4 linked regions of the Homo sapiens genome follow. The protein of the gene in region 2 purifies or fractionates together with the protein of the main gene of each other region. This does not show direct contact. Each region holds a gene or a part of one and is shown on either strand. Other genes may lie near its edges.

Region 1 (3,441 bases), on a different chromosome or scaffold from region 2:
CCCCATATGTCTTAGCACAGTTGCAGGAACATAGGAGACCCTTAAATGCTTGTGAAATTAAACTATTTAACCAGTTATAAAGTTGTCTTGGGAAAATATTTGGAAGAAAAATACTTACTCACCTATGTGAATTTGCTGTTTCCACATCACATTTCAAAATCACTAATCTATCTACAAACTTATTTAAGTACTAGTTCCGAATATCTTATTTATTATCTTATAAAATCTATAACCTTTATATTAGCCTAATAAGGAAATTCTTCCCACTAAAGCAATGTAAGAAAGAATGTGGGAGGTTTTTTGTATTCTAATTTTTTTTTAGTTCTAGGGTACATGTGCAGGATGTGCAGGTTTGTTACAAAGGTAAACGTGTGCCATGGTGGTTTGCTGCACCTATCAACCCATCACCTAGGTATTAAGCCCAGCATGCATCAGCTATTTTTCCTAATGCTCTCCCTCTGCCCATGAAAGAATGTTTTTTTAAAAAAATCTTTCTCCTTTTTTCCCTTGCTTTTTGTTTTAAGAAAGGATACTGACTTCTGTGGTAGTAAATTGATCTCGAAGAAAGTCAAGGTCTTCCTCCAGGGAATCAAGATTCTTTGTGGCAGTCGATAAATTCTTTTCCAACAATGCCTGAGCTTCATCAATATCATATTCAAGCATTACATTAGCCTGAAGAGAGAAAGTCATGACAATTACTCAATATTTACACAGAGCTTTATAGGTTAGAGTAAAGTGTGGGCAAACTACAGCCCTCAGGTCAAATCCAGCTTGCTGCCTTTTGTTGTAAGTTAAGTTTCACTGGAGCCCAGCTATTCTCTACTCAGGCTTTCATACCACAATGGCAAAACTGAGTGGTTGAGACAGAGACCATGTGATCTACAAAACCAAAAATATTTACCATTTGACCTTTTACAGAAAGTTTGCTGACCCCTTGGTTAAAGAATATATTTACATACATTGTATCATTTAATCCTCAACCCTGCTGAGGCCAAAGTTGTCTTCTTCACAGTTAAAGAAATGAAGGCTCAGGTTTCCTTAGCTGGCATAGCTAGTGGGTAAATGGGAGAATCAGGATAAGAAACCAGTATGTTTAGATACAAAATCCTATCTTTCTACTACCTCCATCGTGAAACTAAATAGTGTTGTTTGTATCAATTTAAATAAATTCTGAGCTTGAGATATGATATTAATTTAAAATTTTTCAAAGACATTTATTATCATCTATATTTGACCAGGTAAAAAAGACAGCTAGCTTTTACCTGTCCCTTCCTACTACTTCTGACAGATGTTAGGGATTAAGACAAGGTAATGTGTCTGTCATTCTGAAGATCTAGTGTTACTGCCAACATTCAGGGATGCATGTACCCTGGAATTGGGAAGCCACACCTTTTACAGCTTTGAACTCTCCCTATCACCTGACTTACCACTGGCATTTCCTAAACCACTTTCCTCATCTCACAAATGCAATTTTAAAATTACTCAAAGGATTGTTGTAAGGATTAAACAAGACAACATGAAAGTATTTGGCACAAAGTAAATGCCAAATAAATACTTATTGACCAAATAATCCAATCCATAATTAGAAAACTGTATTAAAATTCAGATAGGACAAAAATATTCAACATAAGCAAAGACTGAACATAAATATAACAAGAATCCACAAAGAAAAAAAAACCAAAGCAGGGGACCAAAAAAATTTCTAAATCCTTCATTTCAACAAAATGTTCCTGAAATGTGACACATGCACATACTACACACACACACACACACACACACACACATACACACACACACACTGGGTGAAATGACACGCAAAATGAAATGAAAGGGTACTTTGTATACCTGGGGGAAACTGACCCAAAAGTCCTTTGAGCATCCAGGCAAAAAGAACACATCACTCATAGAAGAAAGAAATCAGTTTGCCCTCACACTTTTTGACAGTGATGCTTTACAACAAAAGAAAATGGGGCACTGTATAAGATGCTCAAGGAAATAAAATGTGAGTTTAAGATATTATATCCAGCAAAACTGAATTTCAAGTACAAAGGCCACAGACAAGTTGTCAGCAACATGAGATAACTCAGGGAATATCATTCCCATAAATCTTAAGGCAATCTACTTATCAGACGAATGAGTAACATACAATCAAAATGACTGGATGATGACTGGGGGGACATCAACATAAAGACTATGATGTGCATTCAATATTTACACGAAGAACTAGGATAAATGAAAGATGAGAGAGAGAAAGAGAGAGAGCAAACAGTATATAATGGCTCTGTGCTCCAACAATGTGGGAACAACCTTATAAAGAATGTGTAAGGACAGGAAGAACATATGCAAAAATGTCAGTGGTAACAGTGTTGGGTGGTGTTATTCTAAGAATGCTTTGCGTGTGAATAGTAATGTTGTCTAGCTTAATTCTATCACCCTTGGTATTTCTGAAAACCAGGATTCTTGATATAGAAGAAACAGGGGGGCCAGGCGCGGTGGCTCACACCTGTAATCCCAGCACTTGGCAGGCTGAGATGAGTGGATCACTTGAGGTCAGGAGTTCAAGGCCAGCCTAGCCAACATGGCGAAACCCCGTCTCTACTAAAAATACAAAAATTAGCTGGGCGTGGTGGCACGTGCCTGTAATCCCAGCTACTCAGGAGGCTGAAGGAGGAGAATCACTTGAACCCAGGAGGCGGAAGTTGCAGTGACCCAAGATCACGTCACTGCGCTCCAGCCCGGGCGACAGAACAAGACTCTGTCTCAAAAAAAAAAAAAAAAAAAAAAAAAAAAACAGAGGAACAACTAAAGTGAAAACTCTGTTGTCCTGAATTTGAATTGGAGGTAACAGTATGAAACCATGAGGTACACACATATTAACCTGAACCTTTGCACACAAGTTTATGCAGGTTAGCTATATCCTACTGGTTCTATTTCTCCGGTTGAACCCTGACAACAGATTCGTTCACTTACACTTTGCTTTATGCAGTTTTCTGATTTTTTTGTTTATATTTAATATTATATACATATAGAAAAGTATTCATATCATAAATATATAGCTTGATGTATTTTCACAAACTTAACACACTCATGGAACCAGCATCCAGATCAAGGACAGGTTATCACCAACACCCCAAAGCTTCCTTGTGAACATTTTCAGTTACCACCAGCACCCCCACCGCAAAGGTAACCATTAACCTGACTTACAGCATAGTTTTGCCTGTATTACAACTTTACATAAACAGAATGACACAGTATATGTGCTCTTTTGTGACTGACTTCTATAGTAGGCAAGAATTATGGCTCCCATAACAGCTGTCTCATTCTAATCTCTGGAATCTGTGACTCTGATGAGATATTTACATCATTTGTCAGAGCTGACCTTAATATACAGACTGCCTAGGTAGGCCTAATCTAGTTATATGAGCCCTTAAGAGCAGAGAA
Region 2 (3,500 bases):
CTGTGGGGGGCGGGGGGAGCGGAGTCTTGCGCCATCACCCCGACGGCCTCCCGCGCGGAGGAGGCAGGGGGAGCCGGCTTTGGGGACCCCCAGTTGTGCTATGAGCCCCGATGGGGGTTTCCGCCCCGCGCCAACGGCCTGAGGCTGTGCTGGAGAGTCACGGCGGCCGCGGCGCCGGGAGGACGACGATCCTCTGTGCAAATGCCCCCCCCCACGCGCTCCCTGCCTCCCCCGCCTCCTCTCCGGGGTTTCGCCGTTCCTCCTGCAGGCGCTCAGACGTAGTTAAATGTGGCCTTAAGGACTAACCGATCGCTCTGGTGTTTGCTCTTTCGGCGGAAGTGATAGAGTAAGGGGAACATTAAACATGAGGTTCTTTTGGCGGGGGTGAGGGGTGTCGCGCACGCGACTCTAGTGGCCCTGACTGAAGCCAAGGACAGCAGCCTGTTCCCCGGGAGGGAAGAGTTGTCGATCCGTTGGGGAAACGCCCTCCCGGGCTGGGCTCTCCGGGAAGGTAGGTCGAGCTCCGTGTTTCAGGTGGATGTTGCAGCGCCCTGCAGGCTAGGGGAACCCTCCTCCTCGGTCTAAACCTGCTCCTTCCCCCTTTTATTTTTGCCTGGGAGAAGGCAGCTACAATAGTAATGAGATCCTAAAGCGAAAGAGAGGGATGAAGGTTTGCTTTTGAAAAAAGTAAACCGCCTTTCTCCGGATGTTGACTTAGGAGCCAGGCAATTCGTCGCGTCGGGTCCTCCGATGCTGGCATCTCTGAGAATTTTAAAAAGCCGATATAGGTGCTGGTTAAGCACCTCACGAGCTGAACTCTGGTATCTGTGCAGAAACTAACTTTCATGGCAGTGTCCAGCAGAGGCTGCCTTGGAAGCCAGCTTTTACTTTGACCTTTGGAATACATCGCATGATGTTTTCCAGGCTGACTTACTGCCTAATTGGGTTCAAGTAGCATGATATTAACTACAGTTTATGCAAGCCAACCAGGAACTCGCAGGCAGAAAATTGAGCCTGAGTTCCCCTGTGGTCATAGTCAGTTGAGTTCTGCTGCTGATAGTAGTTTCGAGTCTGAGGGGCTCCATGATGAAGATGGGCTTAGGAATTACACAGACCTGGGTTTGAATTCCTCCTGCCACAAGGAGGTAGGATACGTTTACCTGCCCTTGTGACCTTGGGCTGGTGAGCTTAACCTACCTTTTTGAAGCTTTGTTTCTTCACCTGTAAAACGGAATAATCCTATTTAATCAGTAAATGATGACAAAATTGGTTTGATATGGCCCTCAGTATATGCTGTCTATATGACAGTTTTAGTCTCGGAGACATATCAGGGTGCTTCCAGGCATTACTTTGAGCTCCTCCATGGTTTAGGATAATAACAATATTAGCTAGTGCTTACATAGCAACCACGCTGTGTCTGGCACATTTCTTAAGTGGATTACATGTATCAACTAATTTAGTCCCCACAACAGCACTATGAGGTAGGTATTATTATTATCATCGTCATTGTGCATATGGAAATTGAGGCATACAGGGGTTATCATGTGACCAGTGAGTGGCAGAACCAGGATTCAAACTCAGCCAGTCTGCATACTCAACCTCTACACTCTACTGCCTCCTTTGAAACACCCTTTTTTTCTTAAGATACTGTAAGGAAGAGCTTTTTCTTCTCCAGCTTTGGAGTGGTGCCACCGTAGAAAGAGAATGAGTTTTCTATTATTGAAGACGCTGAAATGAAGAGTGGATAGCATCCTGGTTGGAGATATTAGAGGGCCAGGAGGTTCAGGACCAGGGGCTGTGGATTATCATTTTATGAAGCCTTGCACTGAGTTTGCTTTAGCACATCACAGTGGGTTAGGTTGAAGTGGATCTGGCCTTCAAGGTGCTGGGGGACACATTTTGAGTAAGGAGAAGACAAGCAGGAGCTGCTCAGGCAGTCTGCATCTGCAGCCAAAAAAACTCAACATAACTGGCATGTCTTTAGTATCTGGGACATAGTATGCTCATAGCACCTCATGGATCATCTCACTTAATCATCCCAGCAACTCTTTAAGGGTAGGCCAAGCAGTGCAATGCCACCCCTGTTGTGAGGATGAATCATCTGATTTTTGGAGAGGTTGAGCAACTGGTAGGTGGCACAGCCGGGTTCTCGCACTGCAAAACCACAGGCCCCTTTGGTGGACAGAGATTCCGAGGATTGGATAGTCCATTGGGTCCATGGCCCATTACCAGAATCACGTGAGAGGCATGTAAAATGCAGATTCCTGGGCTCCACCCCAATCACAGGAGTACCACAGCAATCACCAAACTATAACTGAGCTCCCAATTTTTGTACAGTCATGAGCTAAGAATTATTTGTACATATAAACGTTGCAGTCAATTTGATGGTATGGAACACTCTTTGAATCCCAATGACTTGAAATGTTATTCTCCCAAAAAATAAGAAATCCACTTGTCTCGTTAACAGATCTCGTTACAAAAAAAAAATTGTACTCAATATATTCTGAACTTTATCAATAAAAGAATTGTGGAAATGTGTTAGATTTTTCTCTTGTTATAAAAGTCCCTATGTAGTGTTCTTAATTTTGGCTCTTGATAAAGTTTACTATCTGCCCCCTTTGCAGAAGAGGTTTGCTGAAAAGGTGGTTCAGTAGATTGGAGGGTGGGCCCCAGGGATCTAGTGTTTTGCTTTGTTTAAGCAAATGGCAAGCCATATATTTGGGTGGTACTCTCAGGGTCTTTTTAAGTCCTTTTATGTGTTCTGTGCCCTGTAAGTAATTGGTGCCTAGTGGAAATCAGCCTCAACCCAGGAACCTCCATAGGAAGAGAAATTATCCTTGTTACTGGTTTAGTATGAAGCACTTCTCGTCTAGAGTTCTGTATAGCCAGCTGAAATTCTTCGTTGTGTACTCAGAACATGTCAAAGCCTTCTGTGTATCTTGTAGTTGAATGGTCACTCTTAGGTTCTAGATGTCATCTCAGAGATAGAAAGAGCTTTGGGTTGCAACGGTTAGAGCTTTGAGGCTTGAACCAAAGGCGGGGCAGCTGTGCACCCAGTGGCTCACATCAGCCTTTCAGAGCCCAGATCTTTGAAAATGACAGATAATCCTGGAATCTCTAGTTTTTGGCCTGCTGCTTTTCTACCATGCGTGTTTCCTGGGGAATGAACCAGCAGCATAGTGGCTTTGAGTTTCAGAAGTTTTTCCCTCTAGCGTCTTGTGCCTGAGCTAATGAACGGAAGGAATGGTTATAAAATTGGCCAGGTCAAGGGGAGGAGGAGATAAATTCAAGGGGACAAATCCTAGTCCCCATAACAGCAGCCTGTGTTATGACAGCACACCACAGCCCCAATTCCCTCTTTCCTGCTGCTGCTGCACCACCAGCCTCTCAAGGTGGCTTACTCTAGACTTACACAGTTGGCCATCTTTCTTTTTTTTTTTCTTTCCCCATAGCAGTATGAGACTTGTTTCCTTTTTTATTTATTTATTTTATAATTTTTG
Region 3 (3,500 bases), on a different chromosome or scaffold from region 2:
CTCTTTTTCTTCTGTCAGAGGACCATTCTTAGTGGCACTGGGGAAATCTTGGCACCCAGAAGAATTCAACTGCGCTCACTGCAAAAATACAATGGCCTACATTGGATTTGTAGAGGAGAAAGGAGCCCTGTATTGTGAGCTGTGCTATGAGAAATTCTTTGCCCCTGAATGTGGTCGATGCCAAAGGAAGATCCTTGGAGTAAGTATTGGAAACGTTTTTATTCTGAATGAGTTTTAAAGTAGAATAATTTTTTGATATGAAAGTCTTCTATCACTTTAACTTTTTATTTTCTTCTTGCTTTATGCCCTCTCTGCTTTCGGCACTATTTATTATTGTAAAGCAAAACTAAATAGACCTCTGTGGAAATATATCGGACTCATGGGGTTAGGTTGTCTTTGGTTTTGTCTCACTGAGTGCTGGCTTGTCTGGTGAAAGTCTAGCCACTGTGGGGAAAAAATAATTTACTGTGGGTGTGCTTCCTCAACAGGAGCCTGTTTGCTCAGGAATGAAGAGGTCGCATAGGACCACACACATCTGAGTTCTTAGAACTGACACCTTCACTGTTTTAAATTAAATTCCATAGCTTTTATAAGAGCAGTATTTCCCTACTTGTCAGAGTTCAAGCACAGGACACTGATTTCATGAAATATATAAAACATGAGGTTTATAAATGATATATTTTTCTTGAATACATACAGTGTTTAAAAATATAACCTCAGTTTTATGAGAGTGCACATGTGATGGAAAAATAATTTTTTTTCCTTTTTTGCAAAAAAAGGAGTAATTTAGGAATCAGATACAGTACATAATAAATAATGAATACATGAATTTCTTGCTCTGGAATACCTAGTTTCCAATGATAAAGTAAGGGTCAGGCATACTTTATGGTGACTAGGAGCTGGAATCTGATTTCAGAAGAAGCCAGAGTACCTGGCTTCACACAAAAATTGGACATGGCCCTGCTGAACTCTAATATACTCTCAATGTGAAAATATGATAATGAAACTCTAATTATTGTTAATTGAGAGAATAGGTAGTATGAATTATTGAGTAGTCTTAAGATATCTCTTAGGATATCCTTAAATATGTCTGAAACGTTGAAGACACTTAAAATTATATATATGTCACCTGAAATATTTCTAGATTATTGATTTGTGTAATATGTTGGGAACAAAGAAGTGGAATGGTTCAGACTGTACCTTCCCAAATGATAACAAATAATTAATAGAATATTCATTAATACTGTTTTAGTGTATCAAGGTATTCTATAAATGTTAGAATAACAAAACAAAGTGAAGTTAGAGTCTTAGACCCAAATAAAGTTCTGGGAAATGGAAATCTCATACTCATTGCCTTGGAGATGGGCCAGAACTTCAATAGCTTGTCTAGATTGTATTTTAGTTATTTGATTACCTGTTAAAGATTTCTCTCAAGGATGGAAAGGGAAGAATATTCTGGAAGCCTTGGGAGATAGTTTGATTCAATATACATCTTCTACAAATGTTCATGGTGAATTTTTTGGATCTAAATGTCTGTTTCTTCCCATTGTCCTTCAGTAGTGAACTGTGACAATTTCTATGGCTAATAAGTCTATATTATTTCATTTTATTTTGATATTTTTTATAAAAGAAAATAGTTCACTCAAGCACAATTAGAAAACACAAAAAATTTAAAGAATAAATTTAAATGACCTAAATATTTACCAATCACAGATAATTACTGTTAACCTTATGATGTGTTTTTTTCTAGTTTGCTCTTTATAAGTAATGTGTTTACAAAATTGTAATCATGCTTTATGTATATGATTTTTTGTGATAAATATTATAGAAAGAGTATTCACTACTCATCCAAAATTATTTTAATGGCTCCATCTTTCTCTCAATCCAAAGAAATGATTTCTTGTAAAACCAACACCCAAAACCTCTTTTACTAACTAATATCTGGCCCAAATCTTTATAACTTGGTATGTTTAACCATTGGGCCATTGCTGACTAGAATATGGTCCAAATTTTACACATTCGAGTCTGTGCTTAGTGCCATCTTAGCTGATTTCCAAAAGCCTAAACACGTGTTAAACTGATTGGATTACATTATATTTTTATTATATTTTATTACATTATATACATTTATATACATTATATACATGTAATATATACAACTATATATAATTATGTATATTTTATTATTTTTATTTATTTATTTATTTTTTTGAGACGGAGTCTTGCTGTGTCACCCAGGCTGGAGTGCAGTGGCGCGATATCGGCTCATTGCAAGTTCCACCTCACGAGTTTATGCCATTCTCCTGCCTCAGCCTCCCAAGTAGCTGGGACTACAGGCACCCACCACCACGCCCAGCTAATTTTTTGTATTTTCAGTAGAGACGGGGTTTCACCGTGTTAGCCAGGATGGTCTCGATCTCCTGAACTCGTGATCCGCCCGCCTCGGCCTCCCAAAGTGCTGGGATTACAGGTGTGAGCCACTGCGCCCGGCCCCATTATGTTTTGTTATTAAATTATATATATTATATTATTGCTTCTAAAATGCACCAAAGTATAGGTTTGTTTTAATTTTTAAATGCTTCCTCCTTCCCCCAGAACTTTTGCAGATAATACCATAAAACCTTGGTAAGTTAATGTTTCCTGACACCCTTTGAGAAGAAGCAGAAAGTTTTGTAGCAAGCATTTATGAAATGCTTACTTTATTCACTGTACATATAATGTATAAATAACATAGTGATCATTCTTTAAGTTTATTGATTGGCATTTGTAAAGAACACACGTCTAAATATGCATCCGTTTAGATGATTTGTGAGTCTGTTCTTAAGTATCTCTTGTTACTTTGAGGGAAAGCTCAAGACAAAAATGAAGTATGTGTGCCTACTTTGGATTAGCTCTACAGGGATTTACTGGTACAGATATTAGAATAAACATTTATGTATTTATTGTCATCTTCTTTTTTTACATCCAATTACCTTTCTGTAACAGGAAGTCATCAGTGCGTTGAAACAAACTTGGCATGTTTCCTGTTTTGTGTGTGTAGCCTGTGGAAAGCCCATTCGGAACAATGTTTTTCACTTGGAGGATGGTGAACCCTACTGTGAGACTGGTAAGATCAGGGAGCCATTTGTTTCTTGAATTTTGAATAAAGGTAAAACATTAACCCTTATATTACTATAAAGCTCAAGAAAATATTAGGCAAAGTTATTTTCTTAATTGTTTTGGAAGCATTTAATGCTGCTCTAAGCATGTAGAAAAAACTATGTAGATTTTTTTTTTTCTTTTGAGACGGAGTCTCACCCTTGTTGCCCAGACTGCAGTGCAATGGCCCAATCTCGGCTCACTGCAGCCTCTGCCTCCCAGGTTCAGGCGATTCTCCTGCCTCAGCCTCCCGAATAGCTGGGAATACAGGCATGTGCCACCATGCTCGGCTCATTTTGTATTTTTAGTAGAGACAGGGTTTCGTCATGTTGGCCCGGCTGGTCTCGAACTCCCGACGTCAG
Region 4 (3,500 bases), on a different chromosome or scaffold from region 2:
AAACAAACCCATGGCTTCCACTGAATAGCAGTGGAGTTGGAATTCCTAACGAGGCCTGTCTGACTCCAAAGCTCTTTCTCTTTCACTAGAAGATAGTCAGTGTTATTGAATATTAATATTTCACTATAAGAATATTTCACTGTAAGATATTCAGTGTTCTTGAGTATTAGTGCCTTCCCTGATTTTCTCTATCATTAAAGGGCTTATTAAATATCAACTCAAGCATAGATCTAGCTTAATTCCACCTTCTTTCGGGAAGAGGGCTAGAGCAACCCTACAGAGTTGTACTCCTGTTAGGGGCTTTGTTCAGTACTGAGGTGATCTTACTGCTTTCCAAGCATTGGTTGTGGCTTTGCTAGGAGATAGTGCTGATTCTCTCATTCCTACTGTCAAGAGTAGGATAGGAGTTCTGGGAGCTTTTCAGGGTCACAGTGTAAGAAACCAACTCTAGTCCTCTCAGATGTCTGCAGTGAGGCCTGCATTCACAGGCAGAGGGCAGATTTCCCAGCATAGTTGGTGATGTAATGAGAGCATTGCTGCAGCACGAGGCTCCTGAGGGGAAAACAGTACATTTTAACCTTGTTTTCATTGATTTCTGTCCTTGGAGCACTTACTGGATAGCACTGCTGCTCAAACTTTCATGGGCATGTGGCGCACCTGGGACCTTTAATTGCAGATTCTGATTCTATGGGTCTGGGCAGGGGCTGGGAGTCTGGATTTTGAACATGCTCTCAGGTAATGCCTGCATTCTTGGTCCTTTGATTACTGAGGCTGTATAGGTGACACTTACGTGTCATGCAGTGGATATAACCATTCAGAACCCTGAGAGTACATGTGAGACTGTACATGTGAAAACTGCTTTATGGAGTTACTTTAAAGTATCCCTTGAATGGAATCCAAGCTTTTCTTAGCCTTCCAGTGACTAGGAGCAATACAGAACATGTTACACTGGCTATTATTTTTGATTCTTTCAAATGTATTATTATTAATTAATAAACCTGTTGAAAACAAATAATCTTTTGGCATTATAAAAAGGAACACACCAACTTGTACCTCGTAGCAAGGGCAGCTGGACTGTTATCACTAGTGAGAATTTGAGATTTCTTAATTGAGAGTAAGCTGAGACAGCTAAAGGGCTCTTTTATAAGCTTTTGCATTTTTGTCTCTACTGATACCTGGCACTAAGAAGATTTCTATTATTTGAGAGGTTTGATAAGCCATAGTGAGTCATTCACTTGGGAACTGAACGTTTTGTAGATAATCCACTTTTTAACATTTTTAATGTGTTAAATTGATTTAATACTTTTAATGCATTAAAACAGATTTACCTTCTTCCCCAGTAAATCCTTGTTTTATTCTTTCTCTGGAGGGAGAGTTGAACTCTTAGAGGAAAGAGGGAGAAGGAGAAGTAATCAGGCACTTTTTACTTTTACTGGGCATTTGCTACTGATTACCTGACACTGTTCAGTGCATTATCTTAGTTATATAATCTCCGTTAATGACTATATACACTGAGGCTGAAGAGGAGATTAAGTAGTTCATCTGAGATCTTGCAGATAGACCACATCTGTTTTGACTCCAAAGACTCATCCTTTGCACTGAACCAGGGCTTATGAAACTGTACTCAGGCTGAACCGTAAAGCTTAGGGAAGGGGTGTAAGGGTCCCTCATCCAGATGGATCCATGAATATTGGGCATCCTCATTTAGGAGAAAGGATACTTAGATTAAAACAAAACTGTTAAATATCATTGTTTTACATGAAGAAGCCATCATTATTATTGCATATGATTACTTAATAATAGTTTTACAGTAGATATTGATCCCAAACATAATTCTCCCAAGAAAATTAAAACATTGTGGTAAAAATAACTGACATCTCACCAATTATTCCCATATAACAGGCTTAACTCCTGTACCTACTAGAGAACATTTCTAGACATTTAAAACAGTTGATAAGAAGTGTGTGCATCAATGTCTGTGATATTGTACAAGATGAGTCCTTTACCCATTTAGGTGTTAATGTATTTGTATATTTTATCTACATGTAGAAACATACCAGAAGTAGTAACTAGCACCCTCAGGAAATTGATATTAAATAGCAACTTTTCTTTTCTTTCCTTTCTCTTTCCCCTTTCTCCTTTTTCCTTTTCTTTCCTTCACCTTTCCTTCCCCTCCCATTTCCTTACCCTCCCCTTTCCTTCCCCTCCCTTCTCCTTCCTATCCCCTCTCCCTCCCCTCCCCTCTCCCTCCCCTCCCTTCTCCTTTCCGCCCCTCTCCCTCCCCTCCCCTCCCCTCCCTCTTCCCCTTTCCTTTCCTTCGTGCCCAGGCTGGAGTGCAGTGCCATGATCTAGGCTCACTGCAACCTCTGCCTCCTGGGTTCAAACAATTCTCTTGCCACAGCCTCCCGGGTAGCTGGGATTACAGGCATCTGCCACCGTGCCTGGATAAGTTTTGTATTTTTAGTAGAGACAGGTTTTGACAGGTTGCCCAGGCTGGTCTTGAACTCCTGGGCTCAAGCGATCCACCTGCCTCAGCGTCCCAAAATGCTGGGATTACAGGCATGAGCCACTATGCCTAGCCTGCAACTTCTATTTTCTTATTTTTGTTCTTTCTTAGTTTTATAAAATTTCTCAATGAACTTGCGTTGTTTTTGTAATTAAATTTTAAAAGTTATTTTAAGAAAGGTCTGTGTCATCATGATATAGTTCTAAAGTTTAGATGCATGCATGACTTTCAGAGTTACTGTCTTTTCAGGTTTTAAGAGCATGTTCACATGGCCAGAATTGATATTATTCATTTTTATCTTTAAAATAATTAATTTTAAAATTGAGCATAAAGATACATGAGTCTCATTTTTTTCTTATTCTCCAGAAATATAATAAAAAATAGATCTTTACCACCATAATCTACATTTTTAAATATACTGTGATCAAAACTTCTATATTCAAGCCTGTTATTATCACTTCCTGTCTTTATTTGGATTGCTGCTTGTGGGTATAAGGCCAACTGCAAGTAGCAGCCTCAGCAAATTGCATTCATCTTGCTTTAATATGTAGACTTAGTTTGAAATGAATAAAAGGATAGTACAGTCATTGTAAAGGTTGATTCTTTGGGTTTTAATAAATTATTCTCACGTCAATAAGTGGATTCAGAGTTAACGTTGATGTTTGTATATAAGCTTATTTTTTTAGGCAGCTATACGTGCACAAGAAAGCATATTTTTTCCCCATGTCAAAAAGGAAGTATGGGCACTCAAACTATTCAACCACTACTTATTGAGTGCTTCTATATGCCAGGCACTGTGCTATACCCACAATCTTTTAAAAATTTATTGTGATCTTTGGAAATATGAAAACATTTTATAGCTAGCCTTGGTTAAATCTCAGTTGTAAAGAGAAAATATGAAGTGTACTTTTACTCATGTGCTATTGAACAGCTATAGAACAAGCAAAACAGAAAAGGCAGACAACTTAGCTTCCAGTTAAATCCTTTCCCAGTC

Evidence for each region.
Region 1: the proteins of ANP32A (region 2) and VBP1 fractionate together in Homo sapiens (co-fractionation; one large-scale study listed by BioGRID). This does not show direct contact.
Region 3: the proteins of ANP32A (region 2) and PDLIM5 fractionate together in Homo sapiens (co-fractionation; one large-scale study listed by BioGRID). This does not show direct contact.
Region 4: the proteins of ANP32A (region 2) and ANXA5 purify together in Homo sapiens (affinity purification with mass spectrometry, with the first as the bait; one large-scale study listed by BioGRID). This does not show direct contact.

Annotation. Positions count from the first base shown.
Region 1 is NC_000023.11:155,233,460-155,236,900, reverse strand, and holds part of VBP1 (prefoldin subunit 3), read right to left. Parts: intron 673-3,441; coding exon 534-672; intron 1-533. UniProt on the Homo sapiens protein: Binds specifically to cytosolic chaperonin (c-CPN) and transfers target proteins to it. Binds to nascent polypeptide chain and promotes folding in an environment in which there are many competing pathways for nonnative proteins.
Region 2 is NC_000015.10:68,814,396-68,817,895, reverse strand, and holds part of ANP32A (acidic leucine-rich nuclear phosphoprotein 32 family member A), read left to right. Parts: intron 1-3,500. UniProt on the Homo sapiens protein: Multifunctional protein that is involved in the regulation of many processes including tumor suppression, apoptosis, cell cycle progression or transcription. Promotes apoptosis by favouring the activation of caspase-9/CASP9 and allowing apoptosome formation.
Region 3 is NC_000004.12:94,654,442-94,657,941, forward strand, and holds part of PDLIM5 (PDZ and LIM domain protein 5), read left to right. Parts: intron 1-18; coding exon 19-199; intron 200-2,985; coding exon 2,986-3,106; intron 3,107-3,500. UniProt on the Homo sapiens protein: May play an important role in the heart development by scaffolding PKC to the Z-disk region. May play a role in the regulation of cardiomyocyte expansion. Isoforms lacking the LIM domains may negatively modulate the scaffolding activity of isoform 1.
Region 4 is NC_000004.12:121,672,981-121,676,480, reverse strand, and holds part of ANXA5 (annexin A5), read left to right. Parts: intron 1-3,500. UniProt on the Homo sapiens protein: This protein is an anticoagulant protein that acts as an indirect inhibitor of the thromboplastin-specific complex, which is involved in the blood coagulation cascade.